2 separate regions of the Homo sapiens genome follow, and region 1 is linked to region 2. The links come from fine-mapping of genetic effects on gene expression. A gene starts in region 2. The other region holds a variant in brackets. All regions are shown on one strand. Distances are from middle to middle.

Region 1 (15,590 bases), 40 kb after region 2:
GGTGATTTATTCCTCACATAGGTGCTTACAGCTGTGTGTTTCATGCTAAGCACTGCTTTAGCTGCATCCCATAGGTTTTGCTGTGTTTTCTTTTTCTTCATCTCTAGGTATTTTCTAATTTCCTTTGTTAATTTTTTTTTGACCTACTGTCCTTTGAATAGTGTGTTGGTTAATTTCTACATATTTATGAATTTCTCTACTTTTCTTCTGTCATTGTTTCCTAATTTTATTCCACTGTGGTTGGAGAACATACTTTGTATGATGTTAGGTCTATCAAATTTTTTATCATGAGGTATCTCTGAGTTTATCCGCTCTGGAATTTGTTGAGCTTTTGGTGTTTTCAACCATACTTTGTATGATGTTACGTCTATCAAATTTTTTATCATGAGGTACCTCTGAGTTTATCCTCTCTGGAATTTGTTCAGCTTTTTGTGTTTTTAAAAAATCAAATTTTGGAAGTTTTCAATCATTATCTTTTTCTTTCTGTTACTCTAATTATATAATCTTTTTATTATTATTATTATACTTTAAGTTTTAGGGTACATGTGCACAATGTGCAGGTTAGTTACATATGTATACATGTGCCATGCTGGTGCCCTGCACCCACTAACTCGTCATCTAGCATTAGGTATATCTCCCAATGCCATCCCTCCGCCCCTCCCCCCACCCCACAACAGTCCCCAGAGTGTGATGTTCCCCTTCCTGTGTCCATGTGTTCTCATTGTTCAATTCCCACCTATGAGTGAGAATATGTGGTGTTTGGTTTTTTGTTCTTGCGATAGTTTACTGAGAATGATGATTTCCAGTTTCATCCATGTCCCTACAAAGGACATGAACTCATCATTTTTTATGGCTGCATAGTATTCCATGGTGTATATGTGCCACATTTTCTTAATCCAGTCTATCATTGTTGGACATTTGGGTTGGTTCCAAGTCTTTGCTATTGTGAATAATGCCGCAATAAACATATGTGTGCATGTGTCTTTGTAGCAGCATGATTTATAGTCCTTTGGGTATATACCCAGTAATGGGATGGCTGGGTCAAATGGTATTTCTAGTTCTAGATCCCTGAGGAATCGCCACACTGACTTCCACAATGGTTGAACTAGTTTACAGTCCCACCAACAGTGTAAAAGTGTTCCTATTTCTCCACATCCTCTCCAGCACCTGTTGTTTCCTGACTTTTTAATGATTGCCATTCTAACTGGTGTGAGATGGTATCTCATTGTAGTTTTGATTTGCATTTCTCTGATGGCCAGTGATGGTGAGCATTTTTTCATGTGTTTTTTGGCTGCATAAATGTCTTCTTTTGAGAAGTGTCTGTTCATGTCCTTCACCCACTTTTTGATGGGGTTGTTTGCTTTTTTCTTGTAAATTTGTTTGAGTTCATTGTAGATTCTGGATATTAGCCCTTTGTCAGATGAGTAGGTTGCGAAAATTTTCTCCCATTTTGTAGGTTGCCTGTTCACTCTGATGGTAGTTTCTTTTGCTGTGCAGAAGCTCTTTAGTTTAATTAGATCCCATTTGTCAATTTTGGCTTTTGTTGCCATTGCTTTTGGTGTTTTAGACATGAAGTCCTTGCCCATGCCTATGTCCTGAATGGTAATGCCTAGGTTTTCTTCTAGGGTTTTTATGGTTTTAGGTCTAATGTTTAAGTCTTTAATCCATCTTGAATTGATTTTTGTATAAGGTGTAAGGAAAGGATCCAGTTTCAGCTTTCTACATATGGCTAGCCAGTTTTCCCAGCACCATTTATTAAATAGGGAATCCTTTCCCCATTGCTTGTTTTTCTCAGGTTTGTCAAAGATCAGATAGTTGTAGATATGCGGCATTATTTCTGAGGGCTCTGTTCTGTTCCATTGATCTATATCTCTGTTTTGCTACCAGTACTATGCTGTTTTGGTTACTGTAGCCTTGTACTATAGTTTGAAGTCAGGTAGTGTGATGCCTCCAGCTTTGTTCTTTTGGCTTAGGATTGACTTGGTGATGCGGGCTCTTTTTTGGTTCCATATGAACTTTAAAGTAGTTTTTTCCAATTCTGTGAAGAAAGTCATTGGTAGCTTGATGGGGATGGCATTGAATCTATAAATTACCTTGGGCAGTATGGCCATTTTCACTATATTGATTCTTCCTATCCATGAGCATGGAATGTTCTTCCATTTGTTTGTATCCTCTTTTATTTCGTTGAGCAGTGGTTTGTAGTTCTCCTTGAAGAGGTCCTTCACATCCCTTGTAAGTTGGATTCCTAGGTATTTTATTCTCTTTGAAGCAATTGTGAATGGGAGTTCACTCATGATTTGGCTCTCTGTTTGTCTGTTGTTGGTGTATAAGAATGCTTGTGATTTTTGTACATTGATTTTGTATCCTGAGACTTTGCTGAAGTTGCTTATCAGCTTAAGGAGATTTTGGGCTGAGACGATGGGGTTTTCTAGATATACAATCATGTCGTCTGCAAACAGGGAAAATTTGACTTCCTCTTTTCCTATTTGAATACCCTTTATTTCCTTCTCCTGCCCAATCGCCCTGGCCAGAACTTCCAATACTATGTTGAATAGGAGTGGTGAGAAGAGTCCTGTCTTGTGCCAGTTTTCAAAGGGAATGCTTCCAGTTTTTGCCCATTCAGTATGATATTGGCTGTGGGTTTGTCATAGATAGCTCTTATTATTTTGAAATACGTCCCATCAATACCTAATTTATTGAGAGTTTTTAGCATGAAGCGTTGTTGAATTTTGTCAAAGGCCTTTTCTGCATCTATTGAGATAATCATGTGGTTTTTGTCTTTGGTTCTGTTTATATGCTGGATTACATTTATTGATTTGTGTATATTGAACCAGCCTTGCATCCCAGGGATGAAGCCCACTTGATCATGGTGGACAAGCTTTTTGATGTGCTGCTGGATTCGGTCTGCCAGTATTTTATTGAGGATTTTTGCATCAATGTTCATCAAGGATATTGGTCTAAAATTCTCTTTTTTGGTTGTGTCTCTGCCCGGCTTTGGTATCAGGATGATGCTGGCCTCATAAAATGAGTTAGGGAG[G/T]ATTCCCTCTTTTTCTATTGATTGGAATAGTTTCAGAAGGAATGGTACCAGTTCCTCCTTGTACCTCTAGTAGAATTCGGCTGTGAATCCATGTGGTCCTGGACTCTTTTTGGTTGGTAAGCTATTGATTATTGCCACAATTTCAGAGCCTGTTATTGGTCTATTCAGAGATTCAACTTCTTCCTGGTTTAGTCTTGGGAGGGTGTATGTGTCAAGGAATTTATCCATTTCTTCTAGATTTTCTAGTTTATTTGCGTAGAGGTGTTTGTAGTATTCTCTGATGGTAGTTTGTATTTCTGTGGGATCGGTGGTGATATCCCCTTTATCATTTTTTATTGCGTCTATTTGATTCTTCTCTCTTTTTTTCTTTATTAGTCTTGCTAGCGGTCTATCAATTTTGTTGATCCTTTCAAAAAACCAGCTCCTAGATTCATTAATTTTTTGAAGGGTTTTTTGTGACTCTATTTCCTTCAGTTCTGCTCTGATTTTAGTTATTTCTTGCCTTCTGCTAGCTTTTAAATGTGTTTGCTCTTGCTTTTCTGGTTCTTTTAATTGTGATGTTAGGGTGTCAATTTTGGATCTTTCCTGCTTTCTCTTGTGGGCATTTAGTGCTATAAATTTCCCTCTACACACTGCTTTGAATGTGTCCCAGAGATTCTGGTATGTTGTGTCTTTGTTCTTGTTGGTTTCAAAGAACATCTTTATTTCTGCCTTCATTTCGTTATGTACCCAGTAGTCATTCAGGAGCAGGTTGTTCACTTTCCATGTAGTTGAGCGGTTTTGAGTGAGATTCTTAATCCTGAGTTCTAGTTTGATTGCACTGTGGTCTGAGAGATAGTTTGTTATAATTTCTGTTCTTTTACATTTGCTGAGGAGAGCTTTACTTCCAAGTATGTGGTCAATTTTGGAATAGGTGTGGTGTGGTGCTGAAAAAAATGTATATTCTGTTGATTTGGCATGGAGAGTTCTGTAGATGTCTATTAGGTCTGCTTGGTGCAGAGCTGAGTTCAATTCCTGGGTATCCTTGTTGACTTTCTGTCTCATTGATCTGTCTAATGTTGACAGTGGGGTGTTAAAGTCTCCCATTATTAATGTGTGGGAGTCTAAGTCTCTTTGTAGGTCTCTAAGGACTTGCTTTATGAATCTGGGTGCTCCTGTATCAGGTGCATATATATTTAGGATAGTTAGCTCTTCTTGTTGAATTGATCCCTTTACCATTATGTAATGGCCTTCTTTGTCTCTTTTGATCTTTGTTGGTTTAAAGTCTGTTTTATCAGAGACTAGGATTGCAACCCCTGCCTTTTTTTGTTTTCCATTTGCTTGGTAGATCTTCCTCCATCCTTTTATTTTGAGCCTATGTGTGTCTCTGCACGTGAGATGGGTCTCCTGAATACAGCACACTGATGGGTCTTGACTTTATCCAATTTGCCAGTCTGTGTCTTTTAATTGGAGCATTTAGTCCATTTACATTTAAAGTTAATATTGTTATGTGTGAATCTGATCATGTCATTATGATGTTAGCTGGTTATTTTGCTCGTTAGTTGATGCAGTTTCTTCCTAGTCTCGATGGTCTTTACATTTTGGCATGATTTTGCAGCGGCTGGTACCGGTTGTTCCTTTCCATGTTTAGCGCTTCCTTCAGGAGCTCTTTTAGGGCAGGCCTGGTGGTGACAAAATCTCTCAGCATTTGCTTGTCTGTAAAGTATTTTATTTCTCCTTCACTTATGAAGCTTAGTTTGGCTGGATATGAAAATCTGGGTTGAAAATTCTTTTCTTTAAGAATGTTGAATATTGGCCCCCACTCTCTTCTGGCTTGTAGAGTTTCTGCTGAGAGATCCGCTGTTAGTCTGATGGGCTTCCCTTTGAGGGTAACCCGACCTTTCTCTCTGGCTGCCCTTAACATTTTTTCATTCATTTCAACTTTGGTGAATCTGACAACTATGTGTCTTGGAGTTGTTCTTCTCGAGGAGTATCTTTGTGGCGTTCTCTGTGTTTCCTGAATCTGAATGTTGGCCTGCCTTGCTAGATTGGGGAAGTTCTCCTGAATAATATCCTGAAGAGTGTTTTCCAACTTGGTTGCATTCTCCCCGTCACTTTCAGGTACACCAATCAGACGTAGATTTGGTCTTTTCACATAGTCCCATATTTCTTGGAGGATTTGCTCATTTCTTTTTATTCTTCTTTCTCTAAACTTCCCTTCTCACTTCATTTCATTCATTTCATCTTCCATCGCTGATACCCTTTCTTCCAGTTGATCGTATCAGCTCCTGAGGCTTCTGCATTCTTCACGTAGTTCTCGAGCCTTGGTTTTCAGCTCCATCAGCTCCTTTAAGCACTTCTCTGTATTGGTTATTCTAGTTATACATTCTTCTAAATTTTTTTCAAAGTTTTCAACTTCTTTGCCTTTGGTTTGAATGTCCTCCCATAGCTCGGAGTAATTTGATCGTCTGAAGCCTTCTTCTCTCAGCTCGTCAAAGTCATTCTCTGTCCAGCTTTGTTCCGTTGCTGGTGAGGAACTGCGTTCCTTTGGAGGAGGAGAGGCGCTCTGCTTTTTAGAGTTTCCAGTTTTTCTGCTCTGTTTTTTCCCCATCTTTGTGGTTTTATCTACTTTTGGTCTTTGATGATGGTGATGTACAGATGGGTTTTTGGTGTGGATGTCCTTTCTGTTTGTTAGTTTTCCTTCTAACAGACAGGACCCTCAGCTGCAGGTCTGTTGGAGTACCCGGCCGTGTGAGGTGCCAGTCTGCCTCTGCTGGGGGGTGCCTCCCAGTTAGGCTGCTCGGGGGTCAGGGGTCAGGGACCCACTTGAGGAGGCAGTCTGCCCGTTCTCAGATCTCCAGCTGCGTGCTGGGAGAACCACTGCTCTCTTCAAAGCTGTCAGACAGGAACATTTAAGTCTGCAGAGGTTACAGTTGTCTTTTTGTTTGTCTGTGCCCTGCCCCCAGAGGTGGAGCCTACAGAGGCAGGCAGGCCTCCTTGAGCTGTGGTGGGCTCCACCCAGTTCGAGCTTCCCGGCTGCTTTGTTTACCTAAGCAAGCCTGGGCAATGGCGGGCACCCCTCCCCCAGCCTCGCTGTCACCTTGCAGTTTGATTTCAGACTGCTGTGCTAGCAATCAGGGAGACTCCGTGGGCGTAGGACCCTCCGAGCCAGGTGCGGGATATAATCTCCTGGTGTGCAGTTTTTTAAGCCCTTCGGAAAAGCGCAGTATTCGGGTGGGAGTGACCCGATTTTCCAGGTGCCATCTGTCACCCCTTTCTTTGAGTAGGAAAGGGAATTCCCTGACCCCTTGCACTTCCCGAGTGAGGCAATGCCTTGCCCTGCTTTGGCTCGCGCATGGTGCGCGCACCCACTGTCTGGCACTCCCTAGTGAGATGAACCCGGTACCTCAGATGGAAATGCAGAAATCACCCGTCTTCTGCGTCGCTCCTGCTGGGAGCTGTAGACTGGAGCTGTTCCTATTTGGCCATCATCTCTAATTATATAATCTTAACTGAGCTAACTTTAAGTTCCCTAATTCTTTTTCTGACTGTTCAACTCTGCTATTTAGCCCATCTAGTGAATTTTTAATTTCATTTATTGTGCTTGTCCATTCCAGATTTTCTATTTTATTCTTTTTAAAAAATATTTTCTATTTCTTTTTTTTAAACTTTAAATTCAGGGGTACATGTGCAGATTTGTTACATAGGTAAATTTATGTCATGGGGGTTTGTTGTACAGATTATTTCATCACCCAGGTATTAGGCCTAGTACTGATTAATTATTTTTCCTGATCCAATATTTACTATTTTGTGAGACACTGCCCTCATACTTTCCTATAGTTCTTCTGACATGGTTTCCTTTAACTCTTTGAAATAACTGATTTAAAATAGCCAACTTAGTCTTTGTCTAGTCAGTCCAATGTCTGCATTTCCTCAAGAATAGTTCTCTACTGACTGCTTTTCCCCTTTTGGGCCATATATTCTTATTTACTTGCATGCTTCTTAATATATTTTTGTTGGAAACTGGACACTTTAAATTACATGGCAACTCTGGAAATCAGATTTGCCCACCTGCCCCAGGTTTTGTTACTGTGATTATTTAGCATCGTTTTAGTAATATTTCTGAACTAAATCTGTAAAGTCTGTATTTTTTGTTGTAATGAAGTCCTGGGTCAGTTCGCTTAGTGGTCAGCAAATGACTGGAGAGATTTCCCTTAGCACTGGGAAGCGAAGTTTCCCAGTTTTTGCCAAGGGCCTCTGGGTATGTGTTGGGCACGCCTTTAACACTAAGCCAGGCAGCCTGTTTGTAAATTCCATGGGATTTTCTATGTAAACAATCACATAATCTGCAAATAAAGACAGTTTTACTTCTTCCTGCCATTCTCCATGTATTTTATTTCTTCTGCTTTCCTTATTGCATTGGCTAGAAACTCCAATACTATTGAATAGAACAGAGGCATCCATTTTTTTTAACCATAGGGGGAATGCATTCATTCTTTGACTATTAAGAATAATGTCAGCTGCTGTTAACTGTAGCTTTTATCTGTATATGTCCTTGATTAGATTCAGGAAGATGCTTTCTAATACTGTTTGCAGGAATTGATGTTAAATGTTATCAAATGCCTTTCTGCATCGATTGAGATGATTATATCATTTTTCTTTCTTTACCTCTAGCAATATTCTTTGCTCTGAAATCTACTTTGCCTGTTATTAACATAGCTGCTCCAGCTTCCTTTTAAGATGAGCATGCCATATCTTTTTCATGTTTGTCTATACTATTTGTGAATTTATGTTTAAAATTCATTTCTTAAAAGCAGCATGTAGTTTTGTTGTTTTTAACCTATTCCAACCATTTCTGCCTTTTTAAAGGATGCTTAGGCCATTTAGATATAGAGTTTTTCATTGTTATTTTGATTTGCATTTCTCTAATGATCAGTGATATTGAGCTTTTCTATGTATGATTGTAAGCCACATGTATATTTTATTCAAATAACTTTTCTTTTGGACTGAAAAGAAAGCATGTTTATTATAATCTGTGAAAATAAAAAATAATAAGTATTTAAATGTAAGACTGTAACTACAGTAATAGTTTAGAGATGTGAGTGGTCTGTTTAGACTGAAGAAGTCAAATGTTTCATGAGGAAAGTGGAATCTAAATTCAACTCTAAGACAACAGAAAAAGATGAAAGACACGTAACAGGCTCAAACACAAGGAAGTGTATCCACAGAGGATGTCAGGATGATTGGCTAAGATGGAAAAGGGCTAGATTATGGAAGGCCAGGTTATAAAGAGCCCTGAAATTGCAGGAGATGTTGACGTGCCATGCAAAGCTTCTGCAGGTTTTTTAATCAGGTGAAAGGTAAATATACGCATAAAGATCCAAAAGAAATAATGTCAAGAAATTTAGCTAGTGATTAGAGGTAACCCAGAATAACAGAAGGCCCAGACAAATGGGCTGACCCACAGGTGTGTCCTGGAATCCCTCTTATCTATTTCATTCAGCATCCAGTACTGTGGCTGTAATTACCATCTATATCACTAGGACTTCCAAATTCATCGCCATGCCTGCTCCTTTCCTGAACTCTGGCCCTTTACCCGACTGTTTATCTGACACACTCATATAGATGTACAATGAACATCTCACACTTAACATGTGCAAAACAGAATTCTTGATTTGCAGCTCCCAAAAACATGTTCTTATGTTCTTCCCCATTTCTGTCAATTTCACTACTATCCCCACAGTTACTCAAACCAAAACCTTAGAAGTATTATATCCCTTTCTTAACTTACCTTCTACATTTAATAATTGAAGATTCCTGTCAACTTTATCAAATCCTGCCCTGTTGTGTCTTAAATCTATTTATCTCTGTCTTCACTTCCCTGGCCCTCATCATCTTTCACTTAGACTACCCCAAAAGGTCTCCTGAGGATCTTCTTGCCTCCCCATAATCCAGATGTCTCCCTTCTATCTCAAATCCTCACCTGAATTCCCATAGCTCTATGAGACCCAATCCCTCTCTATCTCTTGGATCTCAATTCTTTTTTTTTTTTTTTGAGACAGAGTCTCGCTCTGTCGCCCAGGCTGGAGTGCAGTGGTGCGATCTCCACTCACTGCAAGCTCCGCCTCCCAGGTTCACGCCATTCTCCTGCCTCAGCCCCCACCCCGCAGTAGCTGGGACTACAGGCGCCCGCCACCACGCCCAGCTAATTTTTTTTTGTATTTTTAGTAGAGACGGGGTTTCACCGTGTTAGCCAGATGGTCTCGATCTCCTGACCTCATGATCTGCCTGTCTCAGCCTCCCAAAGTGCTGGGATTACAGGCGTGAGTCACCGCGCCTGGCCGGATCTCACTTCTTAGCACTCTAGTACCACCCTCACCAAGCTTACTCTTGCCTTAGCATCTGAAATACTCTTATACCAGGTTTTTGAAAGGCCGGGTCCCTTCTGTCATTCATGTTTCACCTTAAATGATACCATCTGAGAAAGCCCCCCCTTACCACCCAGTCTTAAGTAGTCACTCACTGTAGTTACTTTCTCACAATATCCCATTTTGTTTTCACTAAGGCAGTCATCATTACCTAAAGTTCTATTTATTGTTTGTCTCCTCCATATTTTTGCACCCCTTTACCCCAGATCAAATGTAAGCTCTTTGAAAGAAAGCACTTTTTAGGTCTTCTTCACTGTTATATCTCCAGATGCAAGACTCACTACACATTTATTGAATGAATTAATGGAAATACAGCACTTGATAAAGATGGGATCTCAAATCAGGAAGAAAAAAATAGATTCGACCAATAATTGAGACAAGTTGTGAAGTATGCAATAAGAAAAATCTGAAGAATGTTAGGGGAACTTTTCCTAGACTGACCCTTATCAGCTCAATCCAAATTCCCATCGTCCACATAGAACCTGGGATTTCTCCTGTGCAATAGTGGCAAATCTGCATCCTAAACCCATCCGTTACTTGTTTCACTTACTTGGCAAGGTCTTCTCCATAGTAATGAAGCAACCAGTAGCAGGTGCTTCCTTATCTGTGACACAGTCTATATGATTCTGACCAATAGCAGACTTCTGTCTTTACAAGCACACATGTGTATGTATGTTGTTTAAATTACAAAATTAAAGCTTGGAATTTAAATCAACCACATTGAACAACAGATCCCTGTTGAATAAATAAACTAAATATACAAACCAATGCACAAGATATAGTCACCACCAAATACAATACCACTTCAACTGAGTTAGCAGTTAGCTAGAGCCTAGGACAAATTCTTGGAAAGACAGAAGCTTCATTTTTAACAATACATAACAGTGCTTAGCATCAGCAAAGCCCCAGATGAGTAGAAGACTCAACTTGGTATCATTAACACAAATAAGTAGTGTTTCATTATTGTATTAGAAAAAAATGGTCTATCATAATAAAATCGCTTTCTTCTGAAAAAAACAAGGCCATTACTTTTCAAAGTTTAGAAATCCTCATGGTGCTAAGTGGCCTATACAACTTAGGTGGAGGGAAGGAATAATTCAGAAGATAGGGCTGGGTTTTTAGTCCTCTGGAGGGTAGAAAATTAGGGATAATGTGACTTCACACATAAACCTTATGATAAGCAAAACATATCCCAGATTCTGTACTCAATGGCTTAATACTGGCTATCATTGGAACTGCAGAGGGATGAAAGATTTTTTATAGCAGATTTGTATTTTTTTGAATTTCTATATGGTTTGAATGTTTTAATCAAGCATGTTTTATTTTTGTAATAATAATGAACTCAAAAAAAGCTAAAAGACAAAAGTAGTCAAAATATACAGGAATTGACTATTTGTATCAGTGCTTTTCAACAGAAATATAATGAGAGCCACAAGTGCTGTGATGCGCATATTTATTTTTAAGTTTTCCAGTAGCCACATTTAAAAAGGTAAGAGAATACAGGTAAAATTAAAGAATATATTTTATTCAACCCAATATATCCAAAATATTATCATTTAAACAGGGATTCAGCATAACAGGTATTGAGATATTTTACAGTCTTTCTTTTCTTACTAAGTCTACAAAATCTGGGGTATATTTTATACTCATAGCATGTCCCAGTGAGAACTGGCCATGTTTCAGTTGCCTTACGAGCCAAATGCATTAGTACTGTACAGTGCAGCTCTGTATCCTGAAAACATATTTTCACATTAATGAAAAAAATGGGCTAATGAGAAGATCAGACAGCTTATAAAATATAAAAAGTAAAGGGTCAGTAACTACATTGAAAAATGTAAAAATTCAGCAGTAATAAAAATATAATGAAAAACCATGAACTGCCACGTGTTCCAGGTCACATGCAGGTATAACTGAGGGATAGGTAAACAAACTAGTATTGCCCTTCTGAAAAAAAAACAACAACATGTTAACAAAAGCTTTAAGTGATTGTTATTCATAATCTTCGCTGCAAAAAAGTTCATTTTCTAAGAATTTTATACTAAGCTCTGACGGAACAAATGTGCAAGACATTTACAAGGATGTTTAAATCTGTATCATTTATAAAGGAAAGAAATTGGCAATAACCTAAATGTTCAATCCCAGGTACCTAATTTCATCAGTAATGGCAAATCCATAAAATTAAATGCCTATCAGTTATTTTATATGATGAGTAATGATTATTCTAGATAGTAGATAATAAATACAACATAACATATGCCCATGAGCTATCTCTCTCCAAGACATGAGATCACTGATTTCAAATTTTATTTTTTGCTTATTTGTATTTTCTAAAATTTCCACAATACATTTTTATTACACCCAAAGTCAATAATCAAAATGGCAAAGTATGTCAGAAAAACTGAAGATGAAGAAAACTGGAAAAAGCCTAGCCTATTTTTTAGAAGAAATCTAATGGTTGCCTCTGAATAAGTAATTTCAGTAGAAGGACAGTATTTAGAAACCAAAATGATGGTTGAGAAGCAAAAAGAAATTTAATCAGCAAGGAATTATGGAAAAATGCACATGGTAACAGTATATATCATACAGAGTGTTTCTTTCTGTTAGATTTTTAAATGAAAATATGCCCATTGTGGAAAGTTTAGAAGAAATGAAAGAGAATAAAGAAGGAAAGAAAAATGACTTGCAACTTCAACACCAGCAATCTCTACCCTCAACATCCTGGAGTGCTCCCTTTAGATCCTTTCCTGCATGGTGCCCAATAAATGTTTGCTGAACAAATGGGGGCAAAAGAACCAAAATACACAGGGATGTCAGTACACTGAAGTAGGAAGGAGGGACAGAAATAGCAAGTCTTAGGAAATGCCTGGGTATAAAATAAGGAGAAAAATTACACTTAATAGCATATCATAATAACTGCATTTAAAGGTGGGAGGAGAGTCAACATGTAATAAGTGTTATTTGATTTAAGTATTTCTATTGCTAAATTTAAGTGTAGTTAAAATTTCATAGTTTACTTTCTTTACATAATGCACTATCCGCATCATTGAAAATTTCTGTGAATATGTTTCTAATAACATTATAATTTTTCAATGTGTAGATATTTCATAATTTGCATAAACAATGCCATGATATTGAAATCAGTTACTTACAATGCCAAGGGAACAGAACTGTTCATGACTCATTGTTGACCTCTATGATATCTACTAGACAGGGGTCCTGTCAGAAGAATGACTAAAAGGGTATTATTAAAACTCTTGATACATGTGGCTAAACTCCTTTCTAGGAAGTTTTAACCAAATCTTGCTCTGAAGCAGTGAGATCTGACAATGTACAGTACGTGAATTTCTATTTATTGGGTGAAAGAGTCATGAAAAGCTAAATGACTAAAGAAAGGAGGCTGTGAAAGACAAAGCTGAGAATGCTGGAGTGAGAAGGAGTCATCATGCTTGCAAGCCACAGTAAAGAGACGAGTGGGAAGAGATGAGTGAGAAAAGAAGGGAAGGAAGTTTGAAAACAAAAGGAAATGTGAACTTAGTTAAGGAAGAACACATCTTCCTCTCAGAAATATGAAGGAGAAACTAATAGGATAGAAAGATAAAGAATAAGTGAAAATAGATATGACTATGAGATGAATTCCTCAGACAACACTGTAAGAAATGTCTTCTTCATTGACCAATTCCAAGAACATCATGCTTCTATTTCTCAGCTGGACAAGTGGCTGTTAGGGGTGCCCAGCCCATCATCCACAACTCTTCTAGCTCCAGCTGGGAGATAACACTGGCTTTGAAGGGATGACAGCCCACCCATGGGGAAAGAAAGATATAACAAATATCTGAAAATTCAGCCCTAACCCCTTAAAGTTTGGCTCACTGAATGATGGCTACTGTGAGGTTTAAGGGAGGAGTAGTATAGAAAGCTCCTAACATCAACTCTTTAAAAATAAAGGCAATTTACCTGGGGAAAATGTATTAGGAACATCTTGTGTCTTGGGGGCCAACTAGATTTTATAACCTTTGGTTTTGAGGACCATATAAGCCCAGCAGAGTAAAATGCTATGAAGACTCATGGCTGTTAATAACTGAGGACGCAAAGACCCTCAAATAGGAAGATTTTCAGTAACAAAAGAAAACGGCTCTTACGCACATAGATTAGATTCCTACAGTTCTCCAGTGTCACTTCTCTGTACAGATTCCTCTGTGGAGGGCTCAGTTATCTCCACTCCCCCTCAGTAAAGTCTACAACAACATTCTTGAATGTCACTGGCTCCTAAAATATAAGCATATTCACCCCCTTTTAGCTATCCAGAAAATGTTCCTGACATAATGTGTAAAGCTGATAGTCACAGGAAAGGTGGAGGAGATGTACAGAAAGTTTTTTTGTTTTGTTTTGTTTTGTTTTGTTTTGTTTTGTTTTGTTTTGTTTTGTTTTTGAGATGGAGTTTCACTCTCGTTGCCTAGGCTGGTGTGCAGTGGCGCAATCTCGGCTCACTGCCACCTCCACCTCCTGGGTTCAAGTGATTCTCCTGCCTCAGCCTCCTGAGTAGCTGGGATTACAGGTGCCCACCACCACACCCAGCTAACTTTTTTGTATTTTTAGTAGAGACAACTTTTCACCATGTTGGCCAGTATGGTCTTGAACTCCTAACCTCAGGTGATCCACCTGCCTCGGCCTCCCAAAGTGCTGGAATTACAGGCACCGGCCACCATGCCCCCCCTTTTTTTTTTTCTGGAGACAGAGTCTTGCTCTGTCACGCAGGCTAGAGTGCAGTGGCACGATCTCAGTTCACTGCAGCCTCCGCCGCCCAGGTTCAAGTGGTTCTTGTGCCTCAGCCTCCCAAGTAGATGGGATTACAGGCACATGCCACCAGGCCTGGCTAATTTTTTTGTATTTTTAGTAGAGATGGGGTTTCACCATGTTACCCAGGCTGGTCTTGAACTCCTGAGCTCAGGCAATCCACTAGGAGTCCATGCCTGGCCCAGGAAGAATTTTTGATAGTGCTCAGACTCTGTGGTTACCTGAAGAAGAAGCCATCAAGAGGAAATCCCAACTCTGTATAATTTCACTCATTTCATCCATATGTCTTTCCCTTCCTGTCTCAAAGGAAAAGTTGCCCTTCCATGTATCCTCTTATTGTATGTTCTAGATGTTCCCTGATACTCTCCAGGCATTCACTCTCACAAATTATCCCCATTTTTGTCAATCTTCAAACTATTCCTCTTTGGAAACCCTTTGGCTTATAAACAAGAATGTTCAAATGAATCTCTTCCTAAATGATTTATTTATCTCTGATAGAAAAAAATAAGAATGCTTTGAAAATCAGTTTAGGAATTACAGTAACAATATTGATGGGCCATCATTTAATAGGCACTGTTAAAAGATGGGGAGATGCAGGTAGAGTAGGCAGCTTGAGAGGAAAAATCAAGGAAATACACCATCAAGAGCAGAAGCCCTTATACACTACTCTTCTGCAGACACTGGGAGGGGCTGCCAGGGGCTTGCCAATTTTTGAGGCAATATGTAGAGTTGGGAGAATGAGACCCCAGGAGTATTTATTCAAAGTTGAGAGGGGAAAGAACAGTCTTCAGGCCTACAACAAAGAGCTAAAGGTTTTCTTAGACAGGTTCTCCCATCCCCTACCCCAAGGCCTCTGCTATTAAAAAGGAACAGAGAATGCAACATCAAATGCATTAGATGCAGCTTAGAAGACAGATGTCACAAATATTTTTGGAGGAGTGTCTACAAGAACCCATCTGTACTAATCACAGCCAATTAGAGGTCTGGCTAAAACCAGCCACGTTAGGATCAATAATATTTTTTAAAAAGGATCCTGTCATTATCATTATGCACAGAAATAACACCAATACAGGAGAGAAAGAACATGGTATGAAAAACATCCAAGGAAGAACACATTCTGGGAAAACTAAGATCCAAGGAATACAAGAAATCTTCTAAAAATGCTTGTGCTATAGAGTAATTCAATAAGGACATGAATTTAATGAAATACACACCACCCAACATGATTTTTTTAAAAAGAGAGATGAAAAGCTATGAATTACTCTGAGAACAAAAATGTATTATGGAGCTAATAAATTTAGTAGGGATTCTCAAACGTGCAAAGACAAAGAGAAGAACATTTTTCTTCTCAT
Region 2 (8,100 bases):
CCTAAACTTTAAAAATAAATTCTGCCATACAAGTGCCTAAAACATTAAAATTTAAATATTTTCACCAAAGAAGTAAAATATAATGGATATTAACTGTGATATAAAGAAAGGAAAATCATTAGATGCTAGTTTTAGCATCTAATTTCACCAGTCCACAGGTACAAATGCTCAGAAAATGATAAACAGAGATAATTCTTACTATCACTATGATTTATGAGCTTACATTAGCCATACTCTACTTGTCAAACTCTAACATAGTTACCTCTGCTCTGAACATTTCAGGATTCTAGTTAAAGATACATAGTTTCCTTCCACTGTCCCTTTGCTTACAGTTGGAACAGATTTTCTGCAAGCCACATATAAGGCACATGCTAACCAATGAAGATCATTTCCCTGTAAAAGAAAAGAAAATTGATTTTTAGTTAAAAAGCTACATATAAATATTTCAATATTTTTAAAAGTATGTTTAAATTGAAAGTGTTGTTTATATTTTTGTGGGAAACTTAGTTTCAATGATGACCCTATCTCATACGCTCTTTTTTTTTTTTTTTTTTTTTTTTTTTTTGAGATGGAATCTTGCTCTGTCACCCAGGCTGGAGTGCAGTGGCGCAATCTTGGCTCACTGCAACCTCCACCTCCCAGGTTCAAGCACTCCTCCTACCTCAGCCTCCCAAGTAGCTGGGACTACAGAAGTGCGCCACCATACCTGGCTAATTTTTGTATTTTTTGTAGAGACAGGGTTTTGTCATGTTGCCCAGGCTGGTCTTGAACTCCTGGCCTCAAGTGATCCATCCGCCTTGGCCTTCCAAAGTGCTGGGATTACAGGTGTGAGCCACTGTACCCAGCCCCGTAGGCTCTTCTTATAATGTGACATTAACATTATTCCACTGAGAGGTAGAGAGGGTTCCCTCACCTTGGACCTGGGCAAGGGTCTGCGTTCCCTCACACTGATTAACTGTCTCTATCAATAATTGCAGAGGTAGAAGTGAAACTATGTAATTCTAAAAGATTATACAAGGCAGTATAGATTCCACTTGGTTCTCTCTCTTAGGACATGTGCCTTCGGAGTCCTGAACCAACATGTAAGAATTTAGCTACCCTGGATCACCATGCTGGTGAGACCACATGGAACAAACATACAGAGATGCCCAACGAGCTCCAGCTGTGCCAGTACCTAGTTGCTCAAGTCTTCCAGGTGAGGTACCAGTCATTTTGACGCAGAAACATGACATCCACACTGTCCCCAGCCTGAATTCCTTACTCACAGAACCTGTGACCAAAACAAATTGCTTTCTGCCCCTAAGTTTTAAGGCAATTTGCTATATAGCCATAGTAATGCAAACAATATTATTGTTTATTTTTATTTATTTTTTATTTTTTTTGAGATGGAGTCTCACTGTGTCACCCAGGCTGGAGTACAGTGGCTCCATCTTGGCTCACTCCAAGCTCTGCCTCCCAGGTTCACACCATTCTCCTGCCTCAGCCTCCTGAGTAGCTGGGACTACAGGTGCCCACCACCACGCTCAGCTAATTTTTTGTATTTTTAGTAGAGACTGGGTTTCAATGTGTTAGCCAGGATGGTCTTGATCTCCTGACCTCGTGACTCGCCCACCTAGACCTCCCAAAGTGCTGGGATTACAGGCGTGAGCCCCTGCGCCTGGCCTATTGTTTATATTTTTAATCTTGCTCAAAATCTAGAAAAGTGATAGAAATACAAAATTAAGCTTGAATGGATATTCAGCCACTAATTTTATACCTAATCAAAACACATACATGAATACATAAAATTTATTTGTATAACCAAATGAGACTATTGTGGATCCACTACCAGATATCATTCAAAAATAATAATTTTTAAGGCATTGTTTGTAAAAGATCGTCACAATTCTTTTTACTCAAGAAGTGATACAACTTTCCTCTCCCTATAAAAGCGAGGAAGGATGGAAGATGTCCTTTAGCTTCAATGTATTCATTACTGGTCTAAATGAAAATGAGAAGAACTGGAAATTCTTCCTTTTTTCACATTTACACATAGACTGTCTTACAAACCCACTTATATGTATCAATAGCATAGATGTTCTTTTGTAAAAAAAAAAAAAACAGCCAAGATCTGTGTATCACATATATCTCTGGGAGATGGTTTCATAATATTCTTGATTTATGATGTAAAAGCAAATTTAGATGCATAACTACTGCATTTCTCTACTATATCAATATCTCTTAGAAAGCATAAAGTTAAGTCGGTCACAGCATTATCCTCTGCTTCAATAAAGGGTTTAAAAGATAATCTATAATGTTCTATTTTGGCTCTAGAAAATTCACAACTACTTGGATGGTGGAGGGAGAAAAAAAAAAAGAAAAAAAATAGAAAGTTTACAACTATATCGTTCCTAAAAAGAAGAATTAGTCTTGTGAGAATTTTACAGTGCTTAGATGACAAAATGGAGCGCGAAGCTCTTTTAAATAATTTATGCAAAGAGTAGACTCTGTGCCTAGTTTATCTTTGGTCCTAAAAAATATATGTTGAAAATTCCATAATACTAAAAAAGTTATCCTCAAAATTAACATCTCATGGTCACATCTTCTAGGGTCAAATAGATCTGGTTTCAAATTCCGGCTCTGCCATACAGTAGCTATAACACAGTGGGGAAATTACTTAACAGTCTCAGAGGCTGCATTTTCTTGGCTGAGGACTGTGAGAATGAGTTACAGGTTAAAAATGCACAGAAAATACAAGAAATCAAGTTAAAATTCCATAACCAGTATTCTGTATTAAACATCATAAGAGCTTTATTTTCCCTTGCACTCCCATGAGAATGACATCCCATATTGTCACAGCGTACCTCACTGTAAGCCCCACAAGAGCAGGTTTGCTGCTCTATATCCAGCACCTAGAACAATGTGTAGCAAGTAATAGGTGCTCAAGAAATATTTGATGAATATTTTACTGAGTAAATCATTTACTGAATAAACTGGGCTAAGAAGCTGAAACTAAAGTCTCAGTAATCAAAAGAATTGAGTAATCAAACATGTTTTCAAAAATAATTTACTAACCAGCTATTACGTGATACTTGCTCATGTATCACTAGACTTCATACAACTTAACTGCTATGAGTTGAAATACCTCAAATAAATGGCGATAATGCTTGTTCTATCTGATTTACAGGATTATCTTGAGGGTAAAATAAGAGCTTGTTTGGAAGCCTTTAAGGCCATTTACCAAAAAAAAACCCAAAAAACAAAAAACAACATAAAAAGCCAACCAGTCCTTCTCTTTGCCAGACTACAGAAAGGCACTGAGAGATGAATAGGAACATAGCTTACTCAGCCAGATCATGTAAATATACAAAGAGCTTAGTAAACTTGAAAACACTGTCCATATGGGTGCTTTATGTGCCAGAAACTACATTATTGCCTTATTTAATCTTCAGAACAGCTCTGTGAGGTAAACACAAATATCTCCAGTTTAGAGATCACCATACTGAACTTTTCCAGCGGTTTCAGGTCTGTCGGGTTCTAAAGCCACCATACACTATCTTCTGCAGACCTAACAATTCAAAGAGGGAACTAGTAATTGAATTAAAATTCTATTAATGCAAATACAAATTAAAAATAACCTCACTCATCAGTACACATAGCCAAAAACATCATATTTAAATAATACCTTGGTTAGGCTTTGCATCCTGGACCTATTTGCCCGACTCTTTCTACAAATTAATTATAAAACGACTTGAGAAATCAAATGGCCTCAGGTTTAAATGCCACACACACAGTCAAACAGCTGATAAACAATCCGTACTTCCGTGTCACTTCCCATTGGCCCATGAAGGGGAGGTGCATACAAAGCTGACACTCACTGGCTAGAATGGCCATTTTTCTCATCTGCAAGCCCTGTCCGAAGGCTGCGACCTAACACACCCGGATCGCAACAACAACAGGAGTCCTGTGCAATGCCCGGGGTGACCAAAAAGCCCTCGAGGTAGCCACAGTCCTGATCCTAGTGACAAATGGGGGCATGTGTCTACATCCGGGTCGGCGGAGGGCTCATTTCATCTGGCCTGGGGGGAAATGAGTATTAATTTGTTTACACAGACGTAAACACAGCCCAAAACGCATCAGCACGTTGACTCAAACGCCCGCAACGCCAGGGCAAAGGCAATTTGGTTAACAGGGGGAAGCGAACAGACGGAGACGCCTGGAGACCCAGGTGCCACAACCCGGTTAATCGCGGTGCAAATAAGGGCAAGTCCCCTCCCCTTGTCCGTGTGGTCTTGACAACGACACTAGTTCATTCTACTAACAAGGCGGGCGGGGGGTCAGATGGGCCACACACACCCATTTTCCTCAACGGGACCCCAGCGCGATCTCAGCCTTGCTGTGCTACTTTAGGGCAAGACGCGTTCCCCATTCGGAAGCCGCAGGAAAGCGCGGCGAGAGCGGGTTAGCCCTCGGAGCGGCTAAGAGCCTCGGAATAGCGCAGAGGAAGTCCCCACCCCTCTCGGGGCTGGGAGCCCGCAACCCGCCCGAGAGTCTCTCGAGGCGCGCGACGCGGCTCGGAAGGCACCGGTTCACGCCAACTAGGCCGGAAGCGCCCCTCCGCCCGCGAGCGCACCTCCAGCGTGTAGCTTTCGCTCATGCTGCGGTAGCTGTCCCAGGCCTCGGCCCGCGCCGCCTCGTCCATGTTGAGGCGGCTGCACAGCTCGTCGAACCGCTGCTGGATCTGAGGGGTGGGCGACTCGGCAGGCGGCGCGGCGTCTTCCGCCTCGCCGTCGTCCTCCTCCTCCTCATCCGAGGCTGCCGCCGCCGGAGGGGGAGGCGGGGGCGGTGGCGACTGGTCACCTCCCGACGGCATAGCGCACCCCTGGGCGGCCGGACCTCAGGTGAGGTGAGGGCCCGGGCCCGCAGCCATTCAAACGGCGAAGCGCCCGCCCGTCCGCCGCCCGCACCGCGCCTGCGCCGCCGCAAACGACGCTGACCGCCTGCAGGCACCCGTAGTCTTGAGCACGGGCTGCTGGGAAACGTAGTCCAGGCCGGCGGTTCAAGGGGGCCAAAAATCATGTTTAAAAAAATTAGCTCCCCTAGTTTCACCAGGGGTGAAATAAAAGCACCTTCCCCGCATTTTAAACACGTACCTCCCCACCGTGAGAACATTCAACAGGGCTGTACTGACGAGAAAATGTCCAAAAGACACTGACGTGTGAAGGTTTCGTATCCAGGCTGTTCCCAGAAGTAAAACTTCCTCATCGCCTGGATATCCTTATCTAAAAAATAGGGATAATAGCAAGGGCCTGTCTCTGTACGTTCACGAAACTGCCTTTGCAAAAATCCTAACAGTGAGAAAGTTATGACAGTGCAAGGGATCTGACCTAAATGACTCCACGCTTCTCACTTCCGAGCTGCCCTTGTTCATTCCTGGGCGAAGACCTAACTAACTACAGGAGGAATTTAATTTCTAATTTCACTTTGAAACAAAGATTGTAACAGTCCTTTCCAAAAACAAACCCCATTCTTGCCTGGGGATCAGTCTGCCTTTGTAGAACTAACAAATTAGCCACAAGATTAGAAATTATGATTTAGGAGGCTTGCAGCCAGAGGCTATAAGATTCCTGACCTCCCCAATTGCTCTCAGGGATAACATCACTATTGTAAAACCTAAGATTGGTGCTGGAGATACTTTTCAGACCGCGCATTCCGATGCACTAGCTGGCGCCACTCAGACCATAATCTGGCTCAACAAGTTCTGCAATTCCACTCAGTAACAGAAGACAGCAAGAGCCCACTTCAACCCCCTGTGATTTCACCTCCCACCTGACAAATTAGCATTCGCCAATCCCTGGCCCCCTACCCGCCAAGTCATTCTTTAAAAACCCCAGTCTCCGAATTTTCTGGTAGGCTGATTTGAATAACCAAACTCCTGTCTGCCGTTCAGCTGGCTCTGCGTGAATTAAACTTTTTTTTTTTTTTTGAGACAGAGTCTGGCTCTGTTGCCCAGGCTGGAGTGTAGTGGCACGATCTCGGCTCACTGCAACCTCCGCCTCCTGGGTTCAAGCGATTCTCCTGCCTCAGCCTCCTGAGTATCTGGGATTACAGGTGTGCGCCACCGCACCCAGCTAATTTTTGTATTTTCAGTACAGGCAGGGTTTCACCATGTTGGCCAGGCTGGTCTCGAACTCCTGACCTCAAGTGATCCACCCACCTCGGCCTCCCAAAGTTCTGGGATTACAGGCGTGAGCCACCGTGCCCAGCCAATTCATTTTATTTCCAATTCTCCTTTCTTTATTTTAATTTTTTAAATTGCCAATCCTTGATTTATAAATGGGCTTGATATAAAACATTTTCCAGATTGAGGAGCAATCTGAGGATTGAGCAATTTGAGGATTCAGAAGGCATTACTGTTTTGCTATTTTTGTTTTGCTTGGTGGGATATGTAAACTGACAGAGGGAAAAGTGCTGGGACAAAAGTAGGGGCTTATGGAAGGTATAATGACAGGCGGGAGGACAGGAAATGGAACTCTGAAGATAGGAGAAAATCAGGTAGACAGGTAACAGGATATTTCAGGAACAATTTTGAGACAATGGAACCCTCTTAAGAAAACCTTAGTAAAATTCACAGTAATCAGCAATGCTTTTGGAGTTGGCTAAGTGATGAGTCTCAAGGTGACTATGGGGCAAGAACAGAAGTTGAACACAAATGGTTTAGAAGTATCTTAAGTATATAGGCTGGACGTTGTGGATCACACCTGTAAATCCAGCACTTTGGGAGGTCAAGGTGGGAGGACTGCTTGAGTACAGGAGTTCGAGACCAGCCTGGGCGACATAGTGAAACCCTGTCTCTACAAAAAATAGAAAAATTAACCCAGAGTGGTGGTACACGCCTGTAATCCTAGCTACTTGGGAGACTGAGGTGGGAGGAACGCCTAAGCCTGGGGAGTCTGCAGTGAACTGTGACCATGCCACTACAGCTTGGGCAACAGAGACCCTGTCTCAAAAAAATAATAATAAATAATTTGGCAAGGCGCGGTGGCTCACGCCTGTAATCCCTACACTTTGGGAGGCCAAGGCGGGCAGATCACTTAAGGTTAGGAGTTTAAGACCAGCCTGGCAAACATTGTGAAACCCCATTTCTACTAAAAATACAAAAAATTAGCCAGGAGTGGTGGCTGGTGCCAGTAATCCCAGCTACTCAGGAGGCTGAGGCAGGAGAATTGCTGGAACCCAGGAGGCAAAGACTGCAGTTAGCTGGGATCATGCCACTGCACTCCAGCCTGGGCGACAGAGCAACTCCATCTCAATAAATAAATAAATTAATAAATAATAAGTGTATTAAAATCTTAGTATTTTACCTGTATATACACTGGGAATATTGATTTTAAAATAATGATATTTCTTCCTTTGGAAATCATTATCAACACTTTACTATGTCAAAGCAAATAAAGAGGCCATGAGCCTGATATCATCTGTCTCTGTAGCTGGAGCTTATATGTAAGCAAACCAGAATTCAGTGTAAACAGTAAGACAACAGTAAAACAAAACATAAGCTTAACCAATCAGAAACTGCCAACTAGCCTCTAATTAGGGATTTTCCTTTTTTTTTTTTTTTTTTTTTTTTGGTGACAGAGTCTTGCCTTGTCACGCAGGCTGGAGTGCAATGATGCAATCTCGGCTTACTGCAACCTCTGCCTCCCAGGTTCAAGCGATTCTCCTGCCTCAGCCTCCAGAGTGGCTGGGATTACAGGAGCCAACCACCACACCGGCTAATTTTTGTATTTTTAGTAGAGACGGGGTTTAAGCACATTGGCCAGGCTGGTCTTGAACTCCTGACCTCAAATGATCCAACCACCTCGGCCTTCCAAAGTGCTGGGATTACAGGCATGAGCCACCGGGCCCAGCCCTCACACCCAAATAAGGCAAACACCCAGCTGTAGCCAATCAAGTAACTGTTTTACTTTTCTATTAAAGCTTACTGCTCACCTGCAGAAGCGCTCTGAATATCTTCTTGTTTTAAGTGGTGCCCAATTCATGAATTGTTGTTTGCTTAAACTGTTAACTTGTCCAAAGTTTTTCTTTTAGCAACTAAGAGAAAAACTTAAATTGTTTTAA

Evidence for each region. PIP is the estimated chance that this variant, and not a neighbour inherited with it, causes the effect. A credible set is the group of variants that fine-mapping cannot tell apart.
Region 1: its variant is the best candidate, but not a certain one, in a credible set for the expression of RBL2 in blood mononuclear cells (TOPMed, PIP 0.88).

The regions. Positions count from the first base shown.
Region 1 is chr16:53,387,833-53,403,422 of GRCh38, reverse strand. No RefSeq gene overlaps it. Among named protein-coding and RNA genes, the nearest start is that of RBL2, 39 kb to the left of the region's middle. The variant G/T (reference allele first, on the strand shown) is at 3,038.
Region 2 is chr16:53,431,309-53,439,408 of GRCh38, reverse strand. It overlaps RBL2 (RB transcriptional corepressor like 2), which reads right to left and starts at 4,938. Exons shown (of 22, transcript NM_005611.4): 1 at 4,613-4,938; 2 at 263-393. The coding sequence starts at 4,852. RefSeq lists an enhancer at 3,944-4,053 and a silencer at 4,664-4,883.